Regions from separate parts of the Homo sapiens genome. Here region 1 is linked to region 2. The links come from fine-mapping of genetic effects on gene expression. Tissue or cell type: cerebellar hemisphere. Region 2 holds a variant in brackets; the other region holds the start of a gene. All regions are shown on one strand. Distances are from middle to middle.

The links. PIP is the estimated chance that this variant, and not a neighbour inherited with it, causes the effect.
Region 1: CLCA4-AS1 starts here. The variant in region 2 is fine-mapped to the expression of CLCA4-AS1 in cerebellar hemisphere (GTEx, PIP above 0.99). The same link has a PIP of 0.9 or more in hippocampus.

Annotation. Positions count from the first base shown.
Region 1 is chr1:86,701,734-86,706,882 of GRCh38, reverse strand. CLCA4-AS1 (CLCA4 antisense RNA 1) reads left to right here and starts at 2,390. Exons shown (of 5, transcript NR_135837.1): 1 at 2,390-3,276. SH3GLB1 (SH3 domain containing GRB2 like, endophilin B1) reads right to left here and starts at 2,307. Exons shown (of 9, transcript NM_016009.5): 1 at 1,912-2,307. The coding sequence starts at 1,983. RefSeq lists a silencer at 1,654-2,143 and enhancers at 1,968-2,469, 3,034-3,103.
Region 2 is chr1:86,539,799-86,544,947 of GRCh38, reverse strand. No RefSeq gene overlaps it. Among named protein-coding and RNA genes, the nearest start is that of CLCA4, 4.7 kb to the left of the region's middle. The variant G/A (reference allele first, on the strand shown) is at 2,530.

The DNA of each region.
Region 1 (5,149 bases), 160 kb before region 2:
CTTTGGGAAGTACACATTTTGAGAGCTTTGCTAGATTTAATTTTTTAAATTGAGTCTATCCACAATTTAAATCAGACTAAATTCTAGTAAATGTGTCCTCTTTAAGGGGTGTGAGTTATACGTCTGAAACATATTTAACTGTATTTAAAAGAGTAGCATTATACAGTGTCAAATCCTCATAAGCATCTAGAATTATAGGTAATGAGCACTAGGACAAACAAAAATACCAAGGGCTCTAGTCCTCTATTGCAGTCAATGTTAAAAGTGTACAAGTGTCTCACACATCAAAATTCATTTCACACCCTCAATCACTCATTCTTCTTGCACCTTGTCTTTGAACTATTAGAAGCTAGTGAATTTAAATCAAAACATTATTTTAACTATAAAGGCTCAACGTCTACAATATATCATATTTTAGGGAAGGAAGGGAAGAAAAGGGTTAAGGCAGCTAGCTTATTACTCACCATGCAGATTTTAGAACTTAGAAATCAAAAGCTAGAAGGAATTTACCATCTCTAAAGTGTTACTTGCTTGTTGATATGGAAATGCTCAGATTGAACCAGATGATTTTTAAGGTCTCTCTAGGCCACAGCATTCTATTATTCTAGCTATCTTAAATCTGGAATGCTTATCCCGGAAGAAAAAGCAGCTGGGAGTACTAGGTCAGACAGCACCTGGTTATTTACTAGTTGTGCAAGTTTCTTAACCTCAGTAAGGCTGCTTCCTCACATATATAAAAGGGGTTAATAACATCTATCTGGCAAAGTTATGGAAAAGACTGGAGATAATATGTCAAATGCATTACAAAGTGCTTGACAGGTTTTTCATAATATAGGCAGCTATTACCTTGCTCTAGCTCTACTACTCTTTTGCCAGGGATAGTGCAATGTAGGATCAACTGTGCCAACAAAATTGGGGCAAAGGCAAGGAAAGTAGTAAAGCCACAGAACAGATTTACATTTCAGCACCAATTTGGTATGCATATTAGAAAATTATTTTTGTTTTCTTTTTACAAAAGAGAATGTTGTTGCTACCGTGACCGTAAACACCAGATTGTTTATAATTCATGTTGTGAAATTTACATCTGTTCACAGATTTACTGAGTTGGCATAACATGGGTGATGACTGTGGGAAACGGCCCAAGTTCCTTAGTACTGACACTTCCTTGATTGTAGAATATCGAGAGGTAGTCAACTTTTCCCCTTAAAGTATATTTAAAACATACTACTGTGACTACAGCCATAACAATATCCCCGCATCTCTCCTTGATCTACAGCTGGTGCTTCCCATTTTGAAAAAGAGTGAAAACCCCCCAACCCTAGGTTTCTTGTGGTCTTGGCAAAGTCTCAACGCCAACTGGCGATCTCCATTTCCCCCGCGGGCTGCCAAGCCCAGGACAGTCCTTTCAGGGAGAAAGAGGGCCGGAGGGAACTGTGTTGGCAGCTCTCTGGGTTGAAGGACAGGAAAAGGAAACTCCCTTCTTGGACTCCGAGGGGAGGGTGAGAGACGAAAGGAAAGGGTGGGGGGTAGTGCAAGAATGGCCTGTGTCTCGGTTACCGCAAAGGACTCGCAAGCCTCCGCCAGCCCCGGGGTGGAGGCCACAGGAGCACTGACGTCGTGGTATCAGAAAGGCGGACAGTGCAGCCTTAGTGTTCCCCAGGGGTGGGAGGAAGCTCCCGGCCCCGTCCCCACCCCGCCTCGCTTCCCAGGGAGCGGCGGTTGGGCAGGAGCGGGGCAGAAATCCGCCGCCGGGCCCGGGGAGGGGACCAGGCCGCGCCCATCTCCCAGGCCTCTGGCTGCAGCAGGCCCGCTGGGTGGTCGGCGAGGCCCGGGGGCGCCGCGTCGAGCTGCGGTCCCCTCCCTCAACCTTCCCGGGCGCCGCCACCCCTTTTCCCCCCAGCACCAGGGTACCTGCACGGCGCGACTGAGGAAGGTGCCTGCGTCGGCCGCCAGCTTCTTCACGTTGAAGTCCATGATATTCATCCTAGGCGGCAGCCGGGCGGAGCCGGCCGACCTAGCGGCGGCGAGGCGGAGGTGCCGCGGCCGGGCTGGGGCGCAGGGCTAGAGCGGCGAGGGCAGACGTGGTAGGTGGAGGGAGGCGGCGCCAGCCCCGCAGCCGCAGCTGTCGTTTCCGTGAACGGGGAGGATGAAGGCGGGGCGAGGGAGGAGAACAAGCGCGCGGCGGCAGCGCCAAGGATGGGTCAGTCGGCTCGGAGAACGGCCGCTAACGTCGACGATGGGCCCCGCGGGCGAGCCGGAGATGGACGGGCGACCCCGCCGTGTGGACCCGGGTCCCAAGGGAAAAACAAGCGCGGGCCGCGGGGCGGAGCCTTTCTCGAGGTTATCGCGGGAACAGCGACCCCTTGAGGATTGCGGCGGCGCAGCCCCGGGGCGCGCCGGGAGCTCCGCCCGGCTCCTGTGGAGGAAGCGGCGAGGGCGAGCCGCGGGGTCTCGGCGCCTCTGTATGCTTGCACTTAACGAGAACCCAGAGCGAACACGACCCACATTTCTCTTTTTGTTTTAAGAGGAAATATAGGAGTTACAGCATAGAATTACAATATCTGGACATTAGAAATAACAGGTCCCGGTCACGGTATGGCACCGCGCGACACACTTGGTCCCTGAGGCCTGGATGCCGCTCAGCAAACGTTCGCGGAATAGGGTTGGGTTTACTGTCCCCCACCGAGCCGGTTGCTCATTCATTCAGCATAATTGAATACCTCCTGTGTGCCAGGCACTGAATCAAGTGTCGGAGACAATGTCCTGCCCTCAAGCTCCTGGCCGGTTACTTGACAACCTTCCGGGACCTCAACGCTATGTGCCTACTGTGTGAAAGCAAAGTGCCAGGTGGAGGACACAAAGATGGCGAGCGACACAGGATAGTCCTTAACAATTAAGCGTGACTAATTTTAATAACAAATGAGAATATGATGTGACATCCGTTCCAAATCCTGTCGTTCCAAGTAACTTCTTAAGCATCTTTCACGATACAGCCTCTGCTTGAAAGGAATTAAAACAGGTACAAGCATGGAAGGAGACGTTGCTATCATATTTCAAGAATAAGAAAATGCTGTTTTGTGTGGTTGTGCAGCAGGCAATGAAATGAGCTTACATTCAAGCTTCCGTGTTTTACTGAAACAACAGTCACAGATGCAGTAGATGTTAAAGGTTGAAAGACGAGTGCAGTAAAAGCATTATGAGGACAAGAAGAAAACGTAAATATTTGTGTTGTTTCATTCTTTGTTGTGGTGGCAGAAACAGCCCCCTCTTTCTAAGGTAACTCCAATATAATGATCTCTCCCAGCTTTGAAATACTCCATGTCTGTTTCATTTTCCAGAAATATGGAAAAATGAATATATAATAAAAAACCCTATTTCTCATTTATTGTCTATTTTAGATCTTTATGTGGAAAAGCACTTACTCTCTTCCCAGAGCACTGTTTTTAAAGTAGGTATATTTGCCATAACCTATGCTCGTCTCTACAAAAGGATCACACCACCGTGTCCACCATTAAAGGGGAAATTCTTTAATGGTGGACACAGTGGTGTCCCTGAATCCTCATCCTCAAGTGTTTCAATCTTCCCAGTCTTGGGAAAACAACAATGTTACTTCTTTCTTTTGCACCCTCTGTAGCTGTAATCCTGTTTCCCCATTCTCCATAAAAGACTTACCTTATTTTCATATATCCTTATTCTTAGCCTTTGACACTTTTTTTTTTGAGACAGAGTTTTGCTGTGTCACCCAGGCTGGAGTGCAATGGTGTGATCTCAGCTCACTGCAACCTCTGCCTCCTGGGTTCAAGGATTCTCCTGCCTCAGCCTTCCAAGTAGCTGGGATTACAAGCATGCATCACCACGCCCGGCTAATTTTTTATATCTTTAGTAGAGACAGAGTTTCACCATGTGGGCCAGGCTGGTCTCGAACTCCTGGCCTCAAGTGATCCGCCTGCCACAGCCTCCCAAAGTGCTGGGATGACAGGTGTGAGCCACCGCACCCAGCTGATTCGCTTTCTTTACAGAGAAAATATAAATCATCACTCTGTTTGGCAGAAGCCTCTTCAACCAAATTTCCTTATTTCCACCTCCTGTTCTCTCCACACTCTTTCCTGCATCATTGCCAAATGTTTCAAAGGAATAGGTGTCTCAGGTGTTCTGAGTAGAGCCACTGCTCCCTTAATCTTGGCTGCACATCAGCATCACCTGGAGAGTTTAAGCAACCACTGATGCCTGGATCCAGTCCCAGAGTGTGGACTGGGCATTGGGATGTTTTAGGAGTTCCTCTAGGTGTTCTTAATGTGTGACCAAGGTTGAGAACTAATTTGTCACCCTCTAGAACTTGCTCCATCAGTCTCTACCCTTTGCCTACAGACTGATTCTACTTCTCTTACCAGATATCAGTCCCTTAAGGGCAGTGTCCGTTTCCTATTTATTTTTATATATTTTATGGTTTACACAGGCAACATAGTGAATTCCCAAATGATTTAGTAAGTGAAAAAAGTAATCAAATCAAGATGTTTACAGTGCTAAGCTCTTTTGTGACACCATCACCCCCAGCCTAAATTTCCAACTATTTATCCATAGATTCAATATTTCCAGTGGCAAGTCTGTTATAGTTTGCTTTTCCTGAAAATTCTTCTTTTCTTGGGTTTCCTACATTGATAAATTGAATCATACACACCAAATCACCTAAGCCAGAAATCTGAGTCCCCTTTGATTATTTCCTCTTATTTCCCACCACCAATTGGTCTATCCTGGCAATTTCTTCTCTGAAACTGTTTCCTATTTTTCATTTTCATCCTCTTTTTAAAAACAAATTTTTTAACTTGAAACAATTTACAAACTAAGAAAACTGTTGCAAGAATAGTACAAAAACTTCTGTGTACCCTTTGCCTAGAAACCCCACTCAAACTTTGCCAATTATTCCAATGTCTTTACAGCAAAAACGTCCCAGCCAAGAAAGATCATGTGCTGCATCCAGTTAGCTTGTTGCTCAATTCTCCTTCAGTCTGGATCAATTATTCAGGCTTTTCTTGACACTATTCCTTCCCCAGAGTTAGCCACTATTTTTAAATTGGTATGATTAATATCTGTTATGTTTTTGTACTTTCACTGAATTTATATGTATCTATGAATGGTACTACTATGTTAT
Region 2 (5,149 bases):
AATGATGGTGGTTTTTGATAGGAATTGCATTGGATTTGTAGATTGTGTTTGGCAGTATGATCATTTTCATAATATTGATTCTATCCATCCATGAGCATGGGATGTGTTTTCATTTGTTTGTGTCATGTATGATTTATTCAGCAGTGTTTTGTAGTTTTCCTTGCAGAAGTCTGTCACCTCCTGGGTTAAGTATATTCCTAAGTATTTTAATTTTTTTGCACTATTGTAAAATGGGTTGACTTCTTGATTTGATTCTCAGCTTGGTCACTGTTGGTATATAGGAGAGCTACTGATTTGTGTACGTTAATTTCGTATCCCAAAACTCTGATGAATTCATTGACCAGTTCTAGGAGCTTTTTAGATGAGTCTTTAGGGTTTTCTAGATATATGATCATGTCATCAGCAAACAGTGACAGTTTGACTTCCTCTTTACCAATCTGGATGCCCTTTATTTTTCTTGTCTTGTTGCTCTGGCTAAGACTTCCAGTATTATGTTGAATAGAAGTGGTGAAAGTGGGCATCCTTGTCTTGTTCTAGTTCTCAAGGGGAATGTTTTCAACTTTTCCCTGTTCAGTATAATGTTGGCTGTGGGTTTGTCATAGATGGCTTTTATTACCTTAAGTATGTTGGGGACACATTTTCTATACTTTCTAATTTTGATGAATTTCCTAAACATAGACATATACTTTATATTTTCTGTAGAGTAGAATGTGAAAATTAATAAAAATCCATAATAAAATGAACAGATACAGTAATACTAATGTCTTCTATTTTTACAAAGCAATTTATCAGCATTACAATGGTATAAATAATGGAAGAGATAAGATAGTTAAATGTAAATAACAGCAAATTAGTTAAGATGGGTTTGAGGTCCAAATTAAAGATTTTAAAGACTTTGATAAATTTAGCAATCAAATTATTTACCTAAAAAATACTGTCCAGTAAAGAAATAATAAAATTTATTTCCATACAAGCACATCAAAAACTTTATCTGGTAGTTTGCTGGTTACTATTGAGGCAGAGTGAATCACATTAATAGTTTACATTTATTCAGTTCTTACCAGAGCACAGATTGTCTCACTTAACCCTCACTGCAACTCTGTAAGGCAAGTATGCATATTACCTTCATTTTATGTATGGAGGAACTGAGGCACACAGATTTAAGTAACTTGCCAATATCACATGGCTAGTAACTGGTAAAGTCAGGATCTGAACCCAGCATTCTTATCCCAGAGCCCATGGATTTAATCTCTCCATCACAAGGCAATGCTGTTTTGCTAGGCAAGTAATGTAGTAAGTTTTTATAAAAAGGAGCAGCTCTGGGAAACTGTGATTATCTGGAGTGAATAGACTGGGTATTAACAAATACATCCTATGCAGTCTTGCCCTCACTGACCCTCCCTTCCTCCTGCTCCCTGCTTCTCCCTGAACTCCAGCTTTGGTGGCTCCAAGAAAACCAAGCATGATCCCATCCCATAGAACTTGTGTTCAGGAAATCCCTTCTGACTCGTTGACTAAATGAATAAATGAATGATTATCATTTTAACCAAAATAACAGCTTATCACAATGCCTAAACAGAAGCTTGTCCAAGGCCTTTGAAATGTTGAAGAAGCCTGATGGACTTAGATCCCCTCTATTGTTTGCGGGAGTATTTATTTTGAGGAGGTGCTATTATAACCTTAAAAAACTCAGGAAACTCTGAGTTATACATTTGGGAGAGAATTCCTCTTTGCCAAAGCAGTTAGAAGAAGCTCCCCTCAGGCAATGAGCACATGCAGCCTGGTGAAAAAAGGTGCCTATTTATAACAGTCTCTCCCTACTTTTTCCTGGTGTCACAGGAACCTCGACATTGGAGACAAATGTATATCCTTGTCTTGTTTTCCATCTATCCCCCTGGTTGAGTTTCTAATACTCTTCTAAAAGAGGAAAGTGGGAAGCTGCTCTGGTGGCCTCAGAGACACCCCCTTCCATTACTAGTCTACATAATACAGTTTCCAGGTCAGCTGGTCCAGCTATAAGGGCCACTGCCTCCATCAACCCAACCTCAGGTAGACATTCCAGCAGAAGCTGGCTTGTCATAAATCAGAAAAGACTGTGCTAAGTGAGTCAAACCTAGATTCAATTCAACTCAGGCAAACAGGCTCACTTGAGTCACTCAAAAAGTATGAGTTTCCTTGTCTGTCACTGGGTCAAAAAAGAGTTACAAAAAAATCAGTTGTTATGTATTTGTTTAGTGTGTAATAGAAAAATGTATCCAACATAACAAGCTTGTGTTTTCACAGATACTACTATCAGAATAACACCATATTTGTTTTTCTCTCTTTTTTATTGAGAAATAGTAATTGTACATATTTATGAGCTTCATGTGATATTCTGGTACATGCATAACGATGATCAAATCAGGGTAATTAGAATATCCATCACCTCAAATATTTATCTTTTTTTGTGTGTGTTGGAAACATTTTAAAGCTTTTTTTTTCCTAGCCTCAGCCTCCCAAATAGCTGGGATTATAGCTGTGCACCATGCC[G/A]GCTAATTTTGTATATTTAGTAAAGACAAGGTTTCACCATGTTGGCTATACTGGTCTCAAACTCCTGACCTCAGGTGATCCATCTGCCTTGGCCTCCCAAAGTGCTGGGATTACAAGTGTGAGCCACTGCACCAGGCCTCTAGCTCTTTTGAAATATACAATAAATTATCGTTAACTGTAGTAACCCTACTATGCTGCTATTGAACATTAGAACTTATTCCTTCTACCTAACTGTATGTTTGTACCCATTAACCAACCTCTCTTCATCCTCCCATGTTCCCACCCTCTGGTAATCATCATTCTACTGTCTAGCTCCATTAACAATGAATTCTCCAGAGAGAGTCAGGACTTCTGATTTCCATGGCAACAGAGAGGTCTCCTGTCACTGGACTTTTAAATCATGAGTCAATTACATGCTAAGAGAGTAATAGTCATTTTCTTTATGAGAAAATTTGGATTCTTACTGAGGTAGATGTGTGGTCGATGATTTCATTTTTTATTTCTGGAAGAAATAATATGTGTAAACTTTTTATTTAAAAAAATGAAAAGAGCCTCTTTTTGAACTGAAAAACTGAGTTACTTATCCTTATACAATTTTCTGAAGGCAACATTGGATTTTAATTATTATAAGCTATACACTATCAACACAGAACCTGAGATATAAATAAGTTGGAATTTATTATGTGAGGCTTAGTTTCTTCCTCTTTCCTTTTGGATCTCTCTATCTGTAGTGTGTGTATTCCTTGTGCTCTGGATTCCTTGTGCTAAGCACATGTGGTTCAGGGTCATGTCTTGCCTTCTAGAGGCAGATCCAGAAACCAGTCTCTCTTTCCTATTCCCAGTGCCAACTTACGTGAGGTTGGGATTCCCTTTGCACCTAGTCAGATGCAGGTATCTTTGAAAGAGGGAGTGTCTCTATGAGCTCTACGCTTGGAGAGAAGCATTAGAAATCCCAATTGTGACTTGAGGTCAAGCCATACTTATTAATTTAGCTTCAGCATATATGGAGCTAATATTTTTATAATCTGTCTGACTCCTATGTCAATTTCCAAATCAGTTCCAAACTCTGAAAAGGAAAATGGCAGGGTTTGCTGTGTTTCATTTTTGTTTTTGCCATTTTATTTATTCATTTATTTATTTATTTATTTTGAGACAGAGTCTTGCTCTGTTGCCCAGGCTGGAGTACAGTGGCACGATCTCGGCTCACAGCAACCTCTGCCTCCTGGGTTCAAGCGATCCTCCTACCTCAGTCTCCCAAGTAGCTGGGATTACAAGCATCTGCCACCACACCTGGCTAATTTTTGTATTTTTACTAGAGATATGGTTTCACCATGTTGGCCAGGCTGGTCTCGAACTCCTGACCTCAAGTGATCCGCCTGCCTCGGCCTTCCAAAGTGCTGGGATTACAGGGATGAGCCACCATGCCTGGCCCTGTTTTTACCATTTCAATATACTAAATACACTAAACAGGAAACAATGTGAAGTCACCTATCTTTGTACATTCTTGGGAATCCCACCATTAAGGATTTCTCATTGGCCTGCCTTTCTTCCTACTTAGTGTCCAGTTTTCCCCTCGCCTTCCCTCATTCTCTGATTTTTACCCCTTCCTTCTAGGATTGTTAAATTTCTGGAAATCCAAATACTTTCTCTCTGTTCTACAAAGTAGTGCTTCAGCTCTTTCCTGCTCCTACTCCCAAACTTGCACATTCAAACCCATCAAGGGGAGGTGATAATATGTATAAAGAGCAATATAGTCTTACATGAACAAAGGGAAATTTACAGGTTCTTTATGTATAGATAAACTGTTGGAGATTATTCCATTCCACAGTTAGAGAACTGTGCTCTGTTTAACCTCTCTGCAGATTAACAAAATGGTATAAAACCCTCATTTCATCTCATAACTGGACAATCTGGCAGTCTTCTTAAAGATTTCTTAGCAATATCTTCCAGTCCAATCTTGCACAACATCAAATTATCTAATGTATAATACTAACTTTTCTTTCTCAAGTTCTTCAGGAGTTCATCATTACCTTCAGGTTGGCACAATCCTTTACTTGCTATTCAGAATTCATCATAATGTAGTTCCAGATTATAATTTCTAGTTTTATCTCCCAATATTATCTATGATAAATCTTTTTCTCTAGTCAAAATTTGTGGAAAATTATTTTTACTTTCCACTATTATCCCCTTGACCATACTCATTTTTCTAATTCTATCCAGCTTAACTTCTACTTCTTTATGAAGACTCCCCTGAGCAATTCAGCCAGTCATTTCACTTCTCTGAACTTTTGTACCCTTTTTACCATAACAGGAAATCTTCTAGATCCAGGATTTAGGAGTTGAGATTTTGAATATCCATATGAGAGAATTTTCTTGCTGGAAAATACCTTAGAGACCATCTAATTCAACCACTGATGTTACAGATGAGAACACTGATGTCCAAGGAAGGTAACTGACTTAATGGCAAAACTTAAACTGGAGACATTTGACTTTTAGCCCCATGTGATCTCTTCTCATGGCTTCCTGCTCACCAGCGCTGCACCAACCTCTCCTTACTCTCTCTAGCTGCTGCTTCTGCTGCTGCTATTTGTACATCAGCTGTGCCCTGAGCTTAAGGCAT